Linked DNA regions of Homo sapiens: region 2 is linked to region 1. The links come from fine-mapping of genetic effects on gene expression. Tissue or cell type: whole blood. Region 1 holds a variant in brackets; the other region holds the start of a gene. All regions are shown on one strand. Distances are between the middles of the regions.

The links. PIP is the estimated chance that this variant, and not a neighbour inherited with it, causes the effect.
Region 2: it holds the start of SPATS2L, and the variant in region 1 is fine-mapped to the expression of SPATS2L in whole blood (TOPMed, PIP 0.95).

Annotation. Positions count from the first base shown.
Region 1 is chr2:200,466,263-200,474,368 of GRCh38, forward strand. SPATS2L (spermatogenesis associated serine rich 2 like) reads left to right here. Exons shown (of 13, transcript NM_001100423.2): 10 at 1,028-1,137; 11 at 3,652-3,754; 12 at 6,570-6,790. The region is part of intron 2 of LOC101927741 (a long non-coding RNA gene); the gene reads right to left. Among named protein-coding and RNA genes, the nearest start is that of KCTD18, 40 kb to the right of the region's middle. RefSeq lists enhancers at 5,341-5,520, 6,836-6,985. The variant G/A (reference allele first, on the strand shown) is at 4,742.
Region 2 is chr2:200,301,874-200,309,979 of GRCh38, forward strand. SPATS2L (spermatogenesis associated serine rich 2 like) reads left to right here and starts at 4,820. Exons shown (of 13, transcript NM_001100423.2): 1 at 4,820-5,049. RefSeq lists enhancers at 532-1,731, 1,274-1,323, 4,195-4,294 and silencers at 4,705-5,434, 5,455-5,784.

The DNA of each region.
Region 1 (8,106 bases):
ATGTGAGTCCGACATGCATGTCATCTTAGATGAATACCTTTTTTCTTACACCTCAAAATGCTTGTCCTAAAGAAATGAAGGCAATTCATATGAGTCGAATTAGAGAGCCAGAAGTCTATCTATTGAAAGATCCAGCTGCATATTTAAATCTCATCCTGTGTGTCTGTATTGATTGCTACTGAGCGCCATAATCTTTTGGGAAACACGTGTATACACACACAGACACAAACCAACTGATAGGCTACTACATCTATTTGAACCTTTAGTTCATCTGAAGATGTGTGAAAATGTTGGAGCCAGAGTACTCCCCAGTGTCTTCTCTACGTGTGCAGGTGCTAAAAAATTCACACGAATCTAGTTCTAGCTGGCCTCACTCACTCTTGAAATTTTTCCACTGGGGACACTTATAGAAAGACCTAAGACACTCTGGGGTAGAACTTCTGTTTTTTTGCTGAATGGAAACATATCTGCAGAGTATCAAAAGCAGAGACATTTTTGGCTCACAAAAAAACTAATAAAGTTAGATTTTTATGTCAGATTCCAGTAACACAGCTAGTCACCCTAAGTGAGTATGTGTTAAAGTTCAAGAGGGCTGCTGCTGTTAAAGTTGAATAGTGCAGCACATATAGAATGATTTCTGCTTAGTAGACTTCCTGTCTTGGCGGTATCACTCAGAGAGGATTTTAATAAGTGTTGTTTTTCAGAGATCGTTGTTCGGAGTAACAAATTTCAAAAGTCTAAATTCCGTAAGTGAGGTCAGACACCAGTGGAGAAAATGTAGAGTGGGAGTGTACAGTGAATCAGAAGGGACTGTGTTTGGCTTGGGGATTGGTGGAGGAGGACAGGAGGAACTGGGTTGTTGGTAATAGGCACAGAGGGTGAACCCGCCTCCATGACCAACTCAGAAAACACAGTCGTGGTCCAACAAAGCAATCAGTCTGTGGAGTGAGAACTGATTCCAAGAAATTAGGTTATTTAATATGTTTCAATCTCTGGCCCTAATGTATGACTCCTCCTTATTTGGCAGTGGAAATCCTGACTGCTCGTCAGAAGAAAGCAGAAGAACTAAAGAGACTCACTGACCTTGCCAGTCAGATGGCAGAGATGCAGCTGGCCGAACTCAGGGCAGAAATTAAGGTCAGTTCTAAAATATCACAGCCTGAACCCTGAGCCAGAGAGCTGATCCCAATTATGTTTGTTTTGCATCCACAGAGTTCTGCTCTCTGAGGATCTAACATGTACACCCAGCTCTCTTCCACAGGGTGGAAATAGAGAACACAGAAGGGGGAAGACCCACATAATCACTGTGTTTAAGTGTAATGTGCTTTGAAGGAATGTGTTACTCCAAAGGAGAGGTACAAGCTATTTTGTCAGTCAGTAGAGACTGAACCAAATAAAGTAACTTGGCCAGGCCATGAATTATAGCTGGGATGGGGGATATTATTTTCACACACTGTGATTTGTATGTATGCATATAAACACATCCACAGGTATATATACACACACGAAGCATGAACGTAGTGTAATGGTGAAGATTAGAAAGCATGCGGTCTGTGGAGATTTCTTTCCTGTATTATTTTCTAGTTTAGTTGCATTTTTATTAAGAATACTACCCATAAATACGTATTTATTAGATTCCTTCATTGACAAGCAACAGAAACTGACCCTGGCTAACCTCAAGGACAAGTAGAATTTGACAGGATGTGAGTATAGCTCAGCAAAGCAGAGCCCTGTCTGAAGGCTCAGCTCAACAATTAGGTAGGAACTGGGGTGGCTCTGGTGAAATAAGAAGCAATAATCACTAGACACTCTCATGGGACCATCAGCCCTGTACCACCCCACTTGGCTCGGATCCCTAAGAGAGAGGCTCTGATTGGCCTCCACTTGGGTCACGTCCATCATTTGGCCCAGAGAGGGTGTGACATCTTGATCGCCAGACCCACCAAGACTGTGGATCTTTGAAACTGCATCAGGGTACAGTTACCAGAAGGGGAAATAGTTACCAGGAAGGCAAGTATAAGTATTTACAACAAAATAGGAAGAAATTTTAAAATTCCCCTTATCCACTTTTTCACCCAGTATACTACACACACACACACACACACACACACACACACGCCTTCCAGCTTCTTACCCACTTCCAGGAAACTAGAGTGGTTGCAAGACACAGCTGCTGCTAGCTTTGAAAGTAAGATTGCAAATTGGGGCATAAAACTGCTTGGCAATGATTGACAGTGGCAAGTGACTTTTCAACTCCCTCCCTCCTGGTTGGGCATGAAAGCGGGCCCCATGGGGAAGAGGACCTCACCTGAGGGTGCTGAGGGCGTCAGTGGCCTTTCCCTCCTCAGCTTCTCTGCTCTGGCCTTTGTGGCCTCCCACCCAGCCAATTGCAGTGGCCTCCACACTAGTCTCTCTGCCTACACTGTCTCCCTTCAGCCTCGTACTCCACTAAGACCAGACGTAAACTCCCAAAGCAGATCTGGTTTCCCCAGTATATCTCCTTCCCCTCAGAAAGAAATTCACAGCTGGACTTCAATATATGTTCCAACTTCCATCTCTCTCTACAAAAATCCCAGCTTGTTAGAACATCAAGTAAGAAATATAAAATTGCTAGCTTCCTGATCTATTGAAATCACCTCATCTTCCGAGTTTCATTTCTGCCTATCAAAACGCCACCCATCATAAAATAGTTAGTAGCACAGGCTTTGGAGTGAAACAGTCCAGCTGCAAAATTTTCTACTTCTGTGACCTTGGATAAGTTACACATTCTCTTAGACTCGTAGAACCCCAATTCCCCCATCTGTAAAACAGAGGTAATAATACTGACTTCATAATACTGTGATCAGATGAAATGAGATTATCTGCTAAGAATTTGACCAGTGCCTCGTAAGTGTTCAATGATTTTTTCAATGTTCCCTCTTAAATAACTCTTTCCCCATTGCCCTCAGTAGGAAATAATTTCTTCCTCTTTTATATTCCTAAAGCACCAACCACATTCCACCTTGTATTGTAGTTAATGGTATCTGTTTTCCTTGCCATTGCTAAACTCCCTGGTAAACTCAAGAAGGGACTGAGTCGCAGTTATTTCTGTATTTCTCACCATGTCTTCTACACACAGATCTTAATTTTAAATGAATGGAAAAATAATCTCTTTCTCACTTCTTTTCACAGCACTTGAAATTCTGCCATTTAAAATAATATTTTCCAGACACTAAAGGCTTTGTGGACGTCCCGGTTCCCTGTTAAAATAGGAATGGGGGTCTAGGAAGGACGACATGTTTTCTCTTGATGGTTAATACCTTAGAAGGCACTTGGCCAAACTCAGAAGACCCTGCCAGAATGCAATTCAGAAAAGTACTAGGAGGGCGAGGGGTGCTAAAAGGTTAAATAGATGAGTCAGACACACATTTCATGTAGGCCCAAACAAGAGAAACACAGGCCCCTCACATATTCCCCAGGCAGGAAGATGCTCATTCCCTAGCCAGGTCAGCACTAAGACTGAGCGTGGAGCCTCCCAGCAACAGGGCTGGAAAGATCCCCACCAGGTCAGCACTGCAGTGGACACCGGAAGAGCAGAGTGAACGCATCCACGGGGGTGCCTTGGTCATTTCTGTAATCATGGGGTTCCTGCTTTTCATCTCTTTCCTCCAGCACTTTGTCAGCGAGCGTAAATATGACGAGGAGCTCGGGAAAGCTGCCCGGTTTTCCTGTGACATCGAACAGCTGAAGGCCCAAATCATGCTCTGCGGAGAAAGTGAGTTTTGCATATTTGCTGAATAATTCTGTGTGAGTAACCTTGGTGCTATTTGGAGTTGCTATTGGAAATGTCAGGTGTGCAGTCCCCCCAGGGGGCTAACGTGAGGTCTAAAGAGATTTAATGATCTAAGCTCATGACACAAGTCACCAGAAATGTCGAGATTTGAACCTAGAGTCTTCAAATGCCACTGCCCATCAGTAATTCCCCAGGATTTATTAAGTGGAACAGAACAGGTCAACTAGTTGATACCTTTTGCAAACTTTTATTAAGCACTGCCAGTTAAACTGCTTCTCTGATTTCAAACAGCCCTGGTTCTACAGAAACTCGTTAGGCAGAGAGAGTGAGTCTTCCTAACATGTCTGGGAACAATCAGTTATTGTTGTGCAGGGCCCAGCTGTTATGCGAGCCCCTCAGCAGTGCCCTGAGCCTCCACCCTCGGTTCTCTGTGCTGAGTGAGGCTGCAGATAATGAAAGACTTCACTCAGCCATTAGCTTTAGTCTTGTTCCCTATTAAGCCTTAATTAGAGCAGCTAATGTGCAACAAAATTGGCTGCTATATTTTCCCCCTACACCAGCCCACCCACAAGGGGAGGTGGGAATGAGCACTGAAGCGGCTTTAAGGACGGCCACAAGGAGGAAAGGACTAGTCAATGACGTGGAAACCCACAGCCTCGCAGTCAGCTGAAAAATTAAGATTTGGCTGCACTTCCTATTATGATAGAATTAACTATACTGTACTACACTGCATACATATATAGTAACACAATTTGCTTTTATCACTTCACAATCTATGGTAGACATTTTTTCATATCAATATATTTAACCAGTCATTTCTCTAAATATAATAGATGTCACCGGTCTTCTGGTTGCTGCATTTAGATTGCTTGCAGTTTTTCACCATTAAAATAACACTCTGATCACCTGAGGCCAGGAGTTCGAGGCCAGCCTAGCCAATATGGTAAAACCCCCATCTCTACTAAAAGT[G/A]CAAAAATTAGCTGGGCGTGGTGGCAGGTGCCTGTAAGCCCAGCTACTTGGGAGGCTGAGGCAGGAGAATCACTTGAACCTGGACCCGGGAGGCAGAGATTGCAGTCAGTGGAGATCGCACCACTGCACTCCAGCCTGGGCGACAGAGCGAGACTCCATCTCAAAAAATTAATTAATTAATTAATTAACACTGCTGCGAGCATCCTTGTCCACACATCCTTGCCAATTATTTGATTTTCTGACTGCATTTTTAAAAATTATTGTTCCCCCCTGTACTCTTCCTTATGAAAGAATCTACCTATTTGCCATTCTCTATCCCCAGCTTTTGCCCCACCTCTAAAAAAGGGAACTGCCCACCCTCTTTTCCACTTCAGCCCTCAATGAGCAAGACAGTGATGCTGAGCGATGCCCTGTCACCACCGATCTCGGGGCGATGGAGAGGTGCCCCTTCACCTCCTTTCCTCCTGAGCACTTCAAGTGCCATCTAGTGGGAGAAATGGTCCCTTACTAAATTCCAGGTGTCCATTCTGAAAGACAGACACCGTAATCATCCAAAGGCCCTTCCTTCTCAGCTTTGTTGAGAGCACATTGAGAACCCACAGGTACTGAACCGGAAATAGTGGTCCCTGATCTGCAGACAATAATGACCCCATGAAACTGAATCTGGTGAGCATAGGAGCCACGGAAATCCCCTGGTCACATTTGGACAGCCCCAGCTTGCTGTCACACCTTCCCAGTACACTGAAGGGACTGGGGATGTGTCCCTGGCCTTTCCATTTCTCCTGTATTGTGATTCTTACTGGTCCCGCCTAGTCCTCTAGCAGAACCCTGGGATTAAATCTGATCCAACAAAGAGAGCAGACAAAGTTGCTTTCAAAAATTGGTGACAGTTTTAAGCCTCAAAGAAAGGTCTAGCTGGCAGTCAGATTCTGGTGAACTGTGAGAGGGAAGTCAGGGCTTTATCCTTGAATTGATTCCCTCCAGTTCTGATTCAGTGTAATCACATAGAAATCATCCCAGCAGAAACCACCACTTTCAAAACCAGGGGGAATGGTCATAATAAACGCTGAGCAGACCTGCCTGAGCCCTGAGCCCTGAGCCCTGAGCTCTGACGGGTGTCCGCCTGATCAGCCTGCCTTGCCTGTAACCTTGGAAGTGGTGCACATCTGCAGTGAGGCTGCAGAAAACGGGGCTGATTAAAGGTGTGATGATGGAGCACTAATGAAATATACAAGATGCCTTAGGGGCTGGCGGGCCTGGCCCTGTGTTTGGGGGATATGCATGACCCAGAGTAACAGAATTCCTAACATCCAACATCACCCCATTCCCAAGCTCTCAGAACATCGTGGATCTGACAGGCCAGAGTGTCCGCATAGCTCCCAATCTTTCTGTGTCTGCAGTACCAGTTGGTCCAGGGAACTGATCAGGGAAGTGAGAACAGGTTTGGTAATGGGGACTCTACGAGGCAGAGTACATTTGCAGACAGGGCCAGAGAGGGAACCTTGAGGTTTCATTATCTCTTTTCCCTTGGTGGTTCTTGACCTAAAGAATAATATTTAAGTTGGTCAGATATGTCTTATTTCCTACAAATGTCTCCCAACTTGGATGATTATGCTGTAATCACAGTTCAGTGATTCCCACAAAAGAAATTTGGTTGTTCTCTTAAGCACCAAGATGCCCTTTCAAATAACATCTTTCAAAAGAAAACTTTTTAATGTTTTTGTGGAGCTCCTGGCCAGTTTCTTCATCTTCTAGCGCTTCCTAATGGGTTACTGAGGCAGCAGTGTTGGAGGTGCAGCTCGTAACACTGAGCACTTTATTATTGCAGTTACACATCCAAAGAACAACTATTCCTCAAGAACTCCCTGCAGCTCCCTGCTGCCTCTGCTGAATGCGCACGCAGCAACCTCTGGGAAACAGAGTAACTTTTCCCGAAAATCATCCACTCACAATAAGCCCTCTGAAGGCAAAGCGGCAAACCCCAAAATGGTGAGCAGTCTCCCCAGCACCGCCGACCCCTCTCACCAGACCATGCCGGCCAACAAGCAGGTAAGCCGACACTGGTGCAGGGTGCCAGAGGAAAAAAAAAAAAAAACCTGTTTCCAGAGGAAGAAAACAGCAACTACTAGATTCTGGGCCTCCTGGGGTCACACTCAGGCTCCCGCCACCTGCCCTCACCCACTCCCCACCCAGCAGCACTGCCCAGCTGGCCTCTTGGGAACTCCCCTGGTCGCTCTCATCCATGCCTGCCAGGTGCTTTCCCATGTGGAGGAAGTGGCCTGCATGCACTCTTGACCACGTGAGCAGAGTCCACCCCAGTGACACAGTTCTTCTCATGGCTAGGACTGCCACCATCCCTGGGGCCCCGAAACCAGCCCACACGTGGAAGGGACCCACAGAGACTCTGGAACAAGACTCGGAACCTACTAAACTACTAATGAGAGGAAATCTGGCATTTGTTTTTTAAGATATTTTAATCCCCATTTATGTTTAGCTGATCAATAAGAGGCTAAAGTTAGTGCAGTCTTCTCTTCTCTTGGGATTTCAGTAAGGAGAATACATTTCAAAATGGCATTCTTCATTCTTATCTATTATGATGTCTAAAGACACAAGTGTCCAAAGAACCATCTTCCTTCTCTCCTTCTGCTTCTCCACTATATCTTTTGGAGGTGATTTCCCCCTTATCCTTAGAGAATTAACAAAAAATTGGGATCTGCCGGATGCAATGGCTCACTCCTATAATCCCAGCACTTTGGGAGGCCAAGGTGGGCAGATCACTTGAGGTCAGGAGTTTGAGACCAGCCTGACCAACATGGTGAAACCCTGTCTCTACTAAAAACACAAAATTTAGCCAGGCATGGTGGCGGGTGCCTGTAATCCCAGTTACTCGGGAGGCTGAGGCAGGAGAATTGCTTGAACCCGGGAGGCGGAGGTTTCAGTGAGCCAAGATCGCACCACTGCCCTTCAGCCTGGGCAACAGAGTGAGACTCCATCTCAAAAAAAAATAAAAATAAAAATAAAGGATCTGATGATATAGAAGTTGGGCATGCTATAAAGATACCTAAGATACCTTTTATCATCTCCAAGAAAAAGTCTTTTCTTTTTTTTTTTTGTAAGACTTTAAAAATGGTGGTTTTCTAACAGGTGTCTTGTTGGGTTTTGCTGTCTCAGCCTTTGAGAATTCTTATTAATGATATTGACAGGTGTTTTCTCAGGCCCTGAAGTCTTCATGAGCTTTAAGATAGCACTTTGACAAGGAGCATGTTATAATCTCATTAGTTAAAGATCATAATCAAATCTGTTTTTACTTGTAGTCTAAATATATCTTCACAGTTTTTGTTCTTTTTTTTTTCTTTTTTTTGGCA
Region 2 (8,106 bases), 160 kb before region 1:
TTATAGTCTTCTCTGTTTAATTTTTTTCTGTTATAGCTTGTGAAATTTTTTCATGATATTTCTAATTAGTATTATAAAGCTCTTATAAGGAGCCCTTATAGCTCCTACCTACAGTACTTACTAAGAAGCAGCCTTCGATTATAAATATTATAAATATTGTAAAAGTCTCCTATATTTTCTTTTAGTCTTTTATAGTTTTTTATGTTTAGATTATTAATCCATCTGGAATTTTTTCTGGAATATGAGCTAAGACAGTGTATTAGTCATGCTTCATTCAACAGAAGGATTTTTTTTTTACTCAGATAACAATTGTGGGTGTTCAGATAACAACTGTGGGTGTTCAACAAGCAGACACAGGTATATTAAATGTTTATATTAAATGTTTTAATATCAGGTGTTTGTGAGTGTCTATAAGAAATAGTGACAGGGTGACTCAGAGACCCAGGCTCCTTCCATCCTAGCTCTACCCTCCTCTTGATAAGGGGTCAGCAAATTACAACCCATAGGCCACATGCAGCCCACTGCCTGTTTTTGTAAATAAAGTATTATTGGAACATAGCCATACTTATTTGTTTACATAGTGCCTATGGCTGCTTTCCATAAAACAGCAGAGTTGAGCAGTTTTGATAGAGACTATATGATCCACAAAGCCTAAAATATTTACTATTTGGCCCTTTATAGAAAAAGTTTCCTGACTTCTGCTTTGAAGTCTCAGGGTCCTTAGTTTCCACATGGCAGATGGGGAAGAGAGATCATGTGGGAGGCTTTCCACGGATGAGGCCTGGAAGGGGAGTACAACACTTTCGCCTACATTCCATTGGCCAGAATTCAGTCCCTGGCTTCACCTAACAATTTGGGAGGCTAGGAAATGTGAATTTATTGTGCACTGAGGAGGAAAGGGAATAATTAGCCATATTCTGCCAAGGTGTTCCCTGCAATTATCTGTTTCTTTCTTCCTTCCTATTTTTAAACAGAATAGGCTAGATTACGGTGCAGAAACAACCAACCATCAAATCTCAGTTGCTTAGAACAAAAAAGGCTTATTTCTTGATCATACTACATGTCCACTAATGCTCAGCAGGGATGGCATTGCTCATTGTTGTCATTCACTCCAGTCTGATGAAGCAGTCACCACCACGCACCTTGATGTTGCAGCACTAGGAAGAAAAGAATGCGGTGACTGATGTCCCAACTCTTAACTTCTGACTCAAAGTTATACTCATCACTTCCGGCCACCTTTCATTGGCTGAAGCAACTCGCAGGGCTATACTATACTTTAGTCAGGTGGGGAAGTACAATCTTATCATGTGCTTCAAAGGCAGCAGAGCTGGAATATTTGTGAACAGCCCTACTGGATTGCACATTAACAAACACAGAACACATATTCATCCCCTTCCTATGGGAGATAACCCAGATTCCATTCATTCACTGCACACAAAGTCCAAGATCCTAGATGGTAGATGCCCTCCCCAATAAGTTTGAATATTGCCTAGTGATCTGGAGTCTAGCAACTAAAATTCCTCTCTGTCCCCACTACTTATTCAGATATCAAAATCCTAACAGAGTCACAACTGATCATGGCCTGAAACAGGTTTCCAGAATCTGAGCTATATCCACAAATGTGAGCCCTGCTCTGAACGATCATGCCTAGAGAATCAGGAGCCTGGTACAATCTAGGGGTGGCAAGCGGGAAATACGGCATTTTGCAAAAATCAATACTGCAAGAAAAGAGTCATCTTTATTGAAGGACATGGCATTGTTTCTCCAGGCTTACAATTAAGCACCCTGAATAAAGAGTGTAGGTGACAATGTGGAGGAAAGCAGTACGCACAGATTAAAAATACCTACACGTAAATGTTAAAAAATATAAACGAACATACTTTGTTCATCCCTCAGAAAACATCTGCTCTTATGGTTCTTGTTTTGTTTGCTTAAGAAAAGATCTTCACATTTCTATTTAGTTTAGAAAATAGTAAAATGCAATTCAATCTCTGAATTGTAATCACAGAGAATCATTTTGAACAATACTGTCAAACTAGCATTACACAGATCAAGATTTCAAACAATGTAATTTTTCAAATAAACTTTGACCATCTGGTGAAAACATCAACATATATCTTATTCATATTTTGTTTCTTCAGACTTTTCTATCTCCCTATAATAATAGGAATATAATGCATATTTTAAAAATCATTTATGCCTAATTCAGAAAAATAATGCTTTGTTAGTTATATGATGTGCAAGAAGCTTTTACATGTTTCAATAAGCATATTAAATCCTCTCTAACAGAAACAGAAGTTTTCATTATTTCCAGAAGAAATTAATTTGAACAGCAAAAGGTTCAAGTTTGATTTGAAATTCACTGTCTCTAAAACTTTTAAAACTCTGATTTTTTTGGGGGGGTGCTGGGCCCCTTAGCTAACTCTTGAAATATACAATTGTTTTCTTCGAAGTTATTCTATACTTGTCTTTTCACGCGCTAGGCCTCCACTCACAGTAGAGAATTAGTTTTAGCCTAGTCTGTGGTACAGTGGCTACTCCTACCTGCCTAGTCTCTATTTTTTCATTGATTCACTGCTTTAACATCTTTGCTCTCAACACATACAGCATTTATTCTTATAGCTCCTACCTACAGTACTTACTAAAAGAAGCAGCCTTCGATTAGAAAGGCGGTATATGGTCTTCTTAAAACCCTTTCTTCCCTCTGGTCATATTCTGTTCTTGAAGGCATTTTTTTCTGTCGGACTTCACTAAGCAAGTTAGATTTGGAGTCATGGGAAGATTATGAAGTGGTGGAAGAAAAGAATGAAGACTGAGTTCAATGTTATTTCCAAAGCCCTTCCTAGGAAAAGTGTTGTTTATTATTCATTTTGGAATTCTAATTATGGAGGAAACCTCCCAAAAACATAAATAAATTATTTAGCCAGAGGACCTAAGAAGTGCATCAAATTTCAAGTCAAATGGCTACAAGTTACTTATTACACCTAAATTTAATAAGCAATAGGATGTTTGTTCTTTATGTGTGGTATGGCTTCTAGAAGCAAGCTTTCCTCTCTGTAGCACAGGCAGGGTCCAACGGTCTAGGTTCAAATTCTTCCTTTACCACTTACTAGCTAAAAACTTAGGCAACTTATTTCACCTCTCTGTGCCTCAGTTTCTTTCTTTCTTTTCTTTTAAAGGCTCTGGCTCTGTTGCCCACACTAGAGCGCAGGGGTGTGATCCTGGCTCACTGCAACCTTAGCCTACCTGGTTCAGGTAATCCTCCCACCTCAGCCTCCTGAGTAGCTGGGACTACAGGCGTGCACCACCATGCCCGGCCAATTATTATTATTAGTTTTTTTGTTTTGGAGGGATGGAGTTTCACTATGTTGCCCAGGCTGGTCTTGATCTCCAGGGCTCAAGAGATTTGCCCACCTCGGTCTCCGAAAGTGTTGGGATTACAGGTGTGAGCCACTGGGCCCAGCCCTCAGTTTATCTGTAAAACAGGACAAAAGTAGTACCTACCTGATGGGGTTCTTCCAAGGATTAAATGAGCTAGTACTTATAAAGCACTTGCTAATGTCTGTTAAATAAATTATATTATCCACACACCAATCCAAGGCGACTATAAGGTAGCAAGAACCACTCCAAGTCACATAAGAAAATGAATTCCTTTCGTTTTAGCTCCTCTCTTTATTTCAGCAGTGCGTTGTCAACAGGGCCACATTATGTTAGCAGATTTGAACTTTATCCGAAAGGTGTTTGTATTTTATTTCAAATTATGAATTCCTGAACATCGGATTATGTACGATTCTGCAGTGCCCTCGGAGGCCCATTAGAGTCTGGAGCTCGAGAAGCATAACAAACTCTGGTCTGATATTTGTAAGGAGCTTGACAGCCAAGGAGCCACTCAGAAACAGTTATTGGTATTGCCAAAAAAAAAAAAAAAAAAGGAAGCTAAGAAGTCACCCTTCTAAATAAATAAATAAATAAATAAATAAATAAAAACCTGAATTGGAGAGCTGCCTGCATTTCACTCTACTGCCTCTGGAAGAAGAGTGTTATCTAAAGTGCTTCCATCATGAATAATGATTGAGAAACTGCTTTTACTCTCCCGACTACTGTACTCCCAGGCAGAAACCCACGGCTGAAGCCCACGATGCCCATGTGTAACTTGGTTATTACACACACGTTTGGAGCCCAGTGTGCAGACCCGCAGCGCAGAGGAGGCGGCGGAACACCCCGGGTTGGTCGGGTTTCCAAGGGCTGACCCGAGCTCCAGCACTTTTTCCGCGCCTGATTTTTCAGGTCATTTTCGAATGGGCTATCTTTGCTTACATTTTGAGCTTGGATCCTCTCCAGAAAGCATTACTACCTTCTAAAAGGAAAAACATCTCGTATTTGCAGACAGTGCTGAGGGAGCAAAGTTCATTTTCTCGGGTAGGAGAAGATGATTCTCTTGCAACACGTGCGGATTGTGACAAAATCTTTCATTAACAAGGGGAGTTTCGGTGAAGTGGAGGTTTGGGGAAAGGCGAGGAAGTCGGTCTGGAGCAAGCAAGCAAAGTGCGGAAGCTGTACTGGGATTCTTCTAGAAAGTGGGGTGGGAAAGGAGCTAGGGAGGGCGTGTGGAGGGACGAGATCTGTGTCAGAACGTGCGTGTGAGCGGATACAAAACCCGAGAGAGGCGTGAGCAGCGCTGTGTTTGCGAGCGGGAGCGAGGGGCGCCGGCTGGGGTGTGTGCTCCTGGTGAGTGACACCGAGGGGAAGGCGGGCGGGTCGGCGGGCGGGGGCAGCCTGCGAGGGGCGGGAGTGTCCCTGCGTGGGGCGGCCGAGCCGGAGTTGTGTCAGTGAAGGAATCCAGTCCGGGGGCCGAGCTGGCTGCGCCCTCCGCTGCAAGCGCCGGCAGCGCGGGGCGAGCTCCGGACGGCGCGCGGCCCAGGCAGCGGCTCCCGCTCGGCCCGCCCTCCGAGCCGCAGGGGCCGCCACCGCCGCGGCGCCTCCCCTGGCGACCGCGCCCCCGGGCCCCGGCTCCGGCCCGGGACGGAGGAGCCGGCGCTCGACACAGAGGTAAGCCCAGGACCCCCTCCACGCCGGGCCGGCTGGGGATGCAGGGCGCGGGCGGACGCGGAGGGGCCTGCGCGGCCGGGACGGAGACTCGGCTGGGCCGAGCATTCCGCAGCCCGGGCCGCCCAGCCTCCGCCGCCTCCCGGAGCGCTGGGTGTGGCCCGCGCTCGGCGCCGAGGCGGGCTGGTGGCGCGGACCGGACGCGAAGGTCGCCGTCCTTCCTTTCTCCAGCCGGCGCGGGCAAGCGGGAGGAGGCGCCGGCTGGGACGCACAGTGGCGCTCCCCGGGCGAGCGTGTGGCCGCCGCGCTCCGACGTGTACCCGCCCGCCCCGGATCTGAATCGCCCGCGGCCGCCGTCCCTCGCCTGCCGTCCTCCCGCGCGGGCGCCCCCGTTCCCTCCCAAGCCGGAAAGAGACCCACCGTCCCCCAGGCTGCTCTCTGGCCCGGAGCCGCAAAGCCCACGTCAGCCGCGACCACCCCGCCCTCGGATCCCAGCCGGGTGCGGGGGCCGCGGCCCCACTGAACCCCGCGCCCCTGGCGCCCAGCGGGAGTGGGATGCGTTGGCGTCCGCGCTGCGCGGGTGGGCTGGGGTGGCCGGAGCAGACGCGGAGCGCCCTGGCCGCGGGACGAAGCGGTCGCGCCGCCGCATTTGGGCGGGGGGACCCCGGAGTCCGCGGGCTGCGGACCCCAGCGGGAGACGGGGTTGTCGTAGGATGCGCTCGCGCTGGACGCCGGCGCACTCTGAATATCATGCTGCCGCACACGCGGGGCTGAAGGGCCGAGTCTTCACCTGCGCGGGGATGCGGCGGAAGCGTCGCGTCTTCGCGAGTGGAGGTTTCGTGTTCCCGCGGGGTTGGTGTGTTTTTGAACTTCACGAGCTTCTCATCCCCCCCGCAATCCTGGTTTTAGCAGATGTCGGGGTTTTGGAGACCTGACACTTTTCGTGAAAGATTCTTTCTGTACGTTTTCTTTTGGCTATATTACAGGGTTTGTAGCTTGAGAACTAGTGAAAACCCTTGAACTTCAAACACAGTCTCATTGCTTATTTTTTGAAATTTAAATATTAAAATATGTACCAGCCCCCTCACAAGCCGACAGACTTTAAGACAAACGACTGTGAAATTTTAGAACCTGTGCAGAGAAAGTGGTTTTATACCAGTACTTGAAATAGTAAGGTCGTGTAACCTTTTTAACATCGTTTTAGTTTGTCTTAAAGGAAGGTTTCAGCACCACTTTGACTGGTACTGTTTTCCAGAGTTTAAGCAGATGTATGTAATATAGCAGGGAAGAGGACAGGAAGTCAGAAATCTCTTCACTCTGAAAAAAAAAAAAGACTTCAAATAATACAACCAATACCCTGAAAATAGAGTGGCCGTCTGGATAAAGTATTTGATAGGCCTTATGAAATTGTGTTGCTTAACCAGAAAGCAATGTGTTGTTAGATAGGGCAGTTTTATCTAGTAACTGTCGTGTTTAAAAATATCTGTGTATGATATTCTTTGTTGAATTTTAACTGGGGAAAAATCAACTTTGGGAATGGGTTTCTATTTGGACAAGGCAAATACTGCAGTTTCTAATTAGAGTTTTGGAATAAGCTCAAGCTGTGTTAAAACCTATTGTATGGAGCAGCAGAACAGAAAACATGTCAAATCTGTATCTGTGTGGCAGAAAACATGTCAAATTCTGTATCTGTGTGGCTTTAAATACACACACACACACACACAGACACACAAACTAGAGACTAGCCCCAAAAGATAATTTGCATAAAAATACAATCACTTGAATGCAGAGAATAGCTAAAGACGTTAGTAAAAACTGAACATCTGGGAAAAGACTGTATTAATTGGCAATTTTCTTTCTTTAATCCCTGAAAATATTAAATGATTTTCTAAGAATCAACTTAGTTTAATGTGCTCATTTAGACAGGCAAAATGATCAAGACTCCTTTTGTATTCATTTTGTTTTAGGGAGCCCCCTAATGAAAGTCTTCAGTAAATAGTTTTTCTGCATGCACTGATTTTCCTGAGGCCATTGTGGAGAGAGTTATCTGTGGGCTTGAGAAGCTGCTCTGCCACACCAGTAAGGATCAGGGAAAGAAAATACTTAGGCCACACCGTTGCAGTCTTTGATTGCATGCCAGTCTGAAGCATTTTATGGACCCGTTTTGCCATGTAAGTGGTAAGCTTTTACATCAGAAGTTAAGCTTTAGAAATATCTCACTTTGGGGCCTAATTTTTGTGAGTTTCTCAGTCTGCGATCAGAGTTGTGTTATCAATCACAGTGAATGTTCGTGAATGGTTGTGTGTTGAAAGGGCATAGGTGGTCTTCATTCTATTACTTTACACAGTTTTAATCAGCATTTTCTGAGGTGAGCCAGGACAAGAACTTCTGGTTACAGTTTGGATAGGATGGAAAAAGTTGTGGTTGCTCTTCGTAAGATCTAAGCTGCTACTACCTGTCCCACTGTATGACAAGAGTGGAATGCATTTTATGTGCACTTGACAGGTACTGCTTAGTCACTGCTTCATAGTACTTCTTTCCTAGCCATCTTCTGTAGCACTTTTACTGTCATTTGACTGTGATAATTAAATCATATGTTTTTTATAATTTCTGTGCACAGAAGAGTAGATTTTACAAGCATGACACAGGACATGAGAGTAGGTGTCTCATATGGACAGATTTAAGTGATTGGGTCTGTTTATTGATCTCTGAATGTTGTGCAACATTCAACTAATCCATTTCATCACTGTTTTGCCTTAAAGTGTAATCACACAATTAAAATAAGATTTTCATGTTACAAACAGTTAAAAACCCAGTAAACATAATTATAGAAGAAAAACAAACCTTTCTTTTTTCTTCCCTTTTTTGAAGTAGTCTTGCTATGAAGGTGTTATGTCTTTGACACATCAAAATGGCTAATTTGGAGTTGTGATGCTTGTTATGTAAATAGGCCATATGTTGAATTTCTGCAGAAGCTTATTCCTTCAGTGTTGTGGTAATGGGTAGGATCCCCTAAGTACCATAGCTGAGAAAAATAGTCTTATGAAGATATATTTCTCT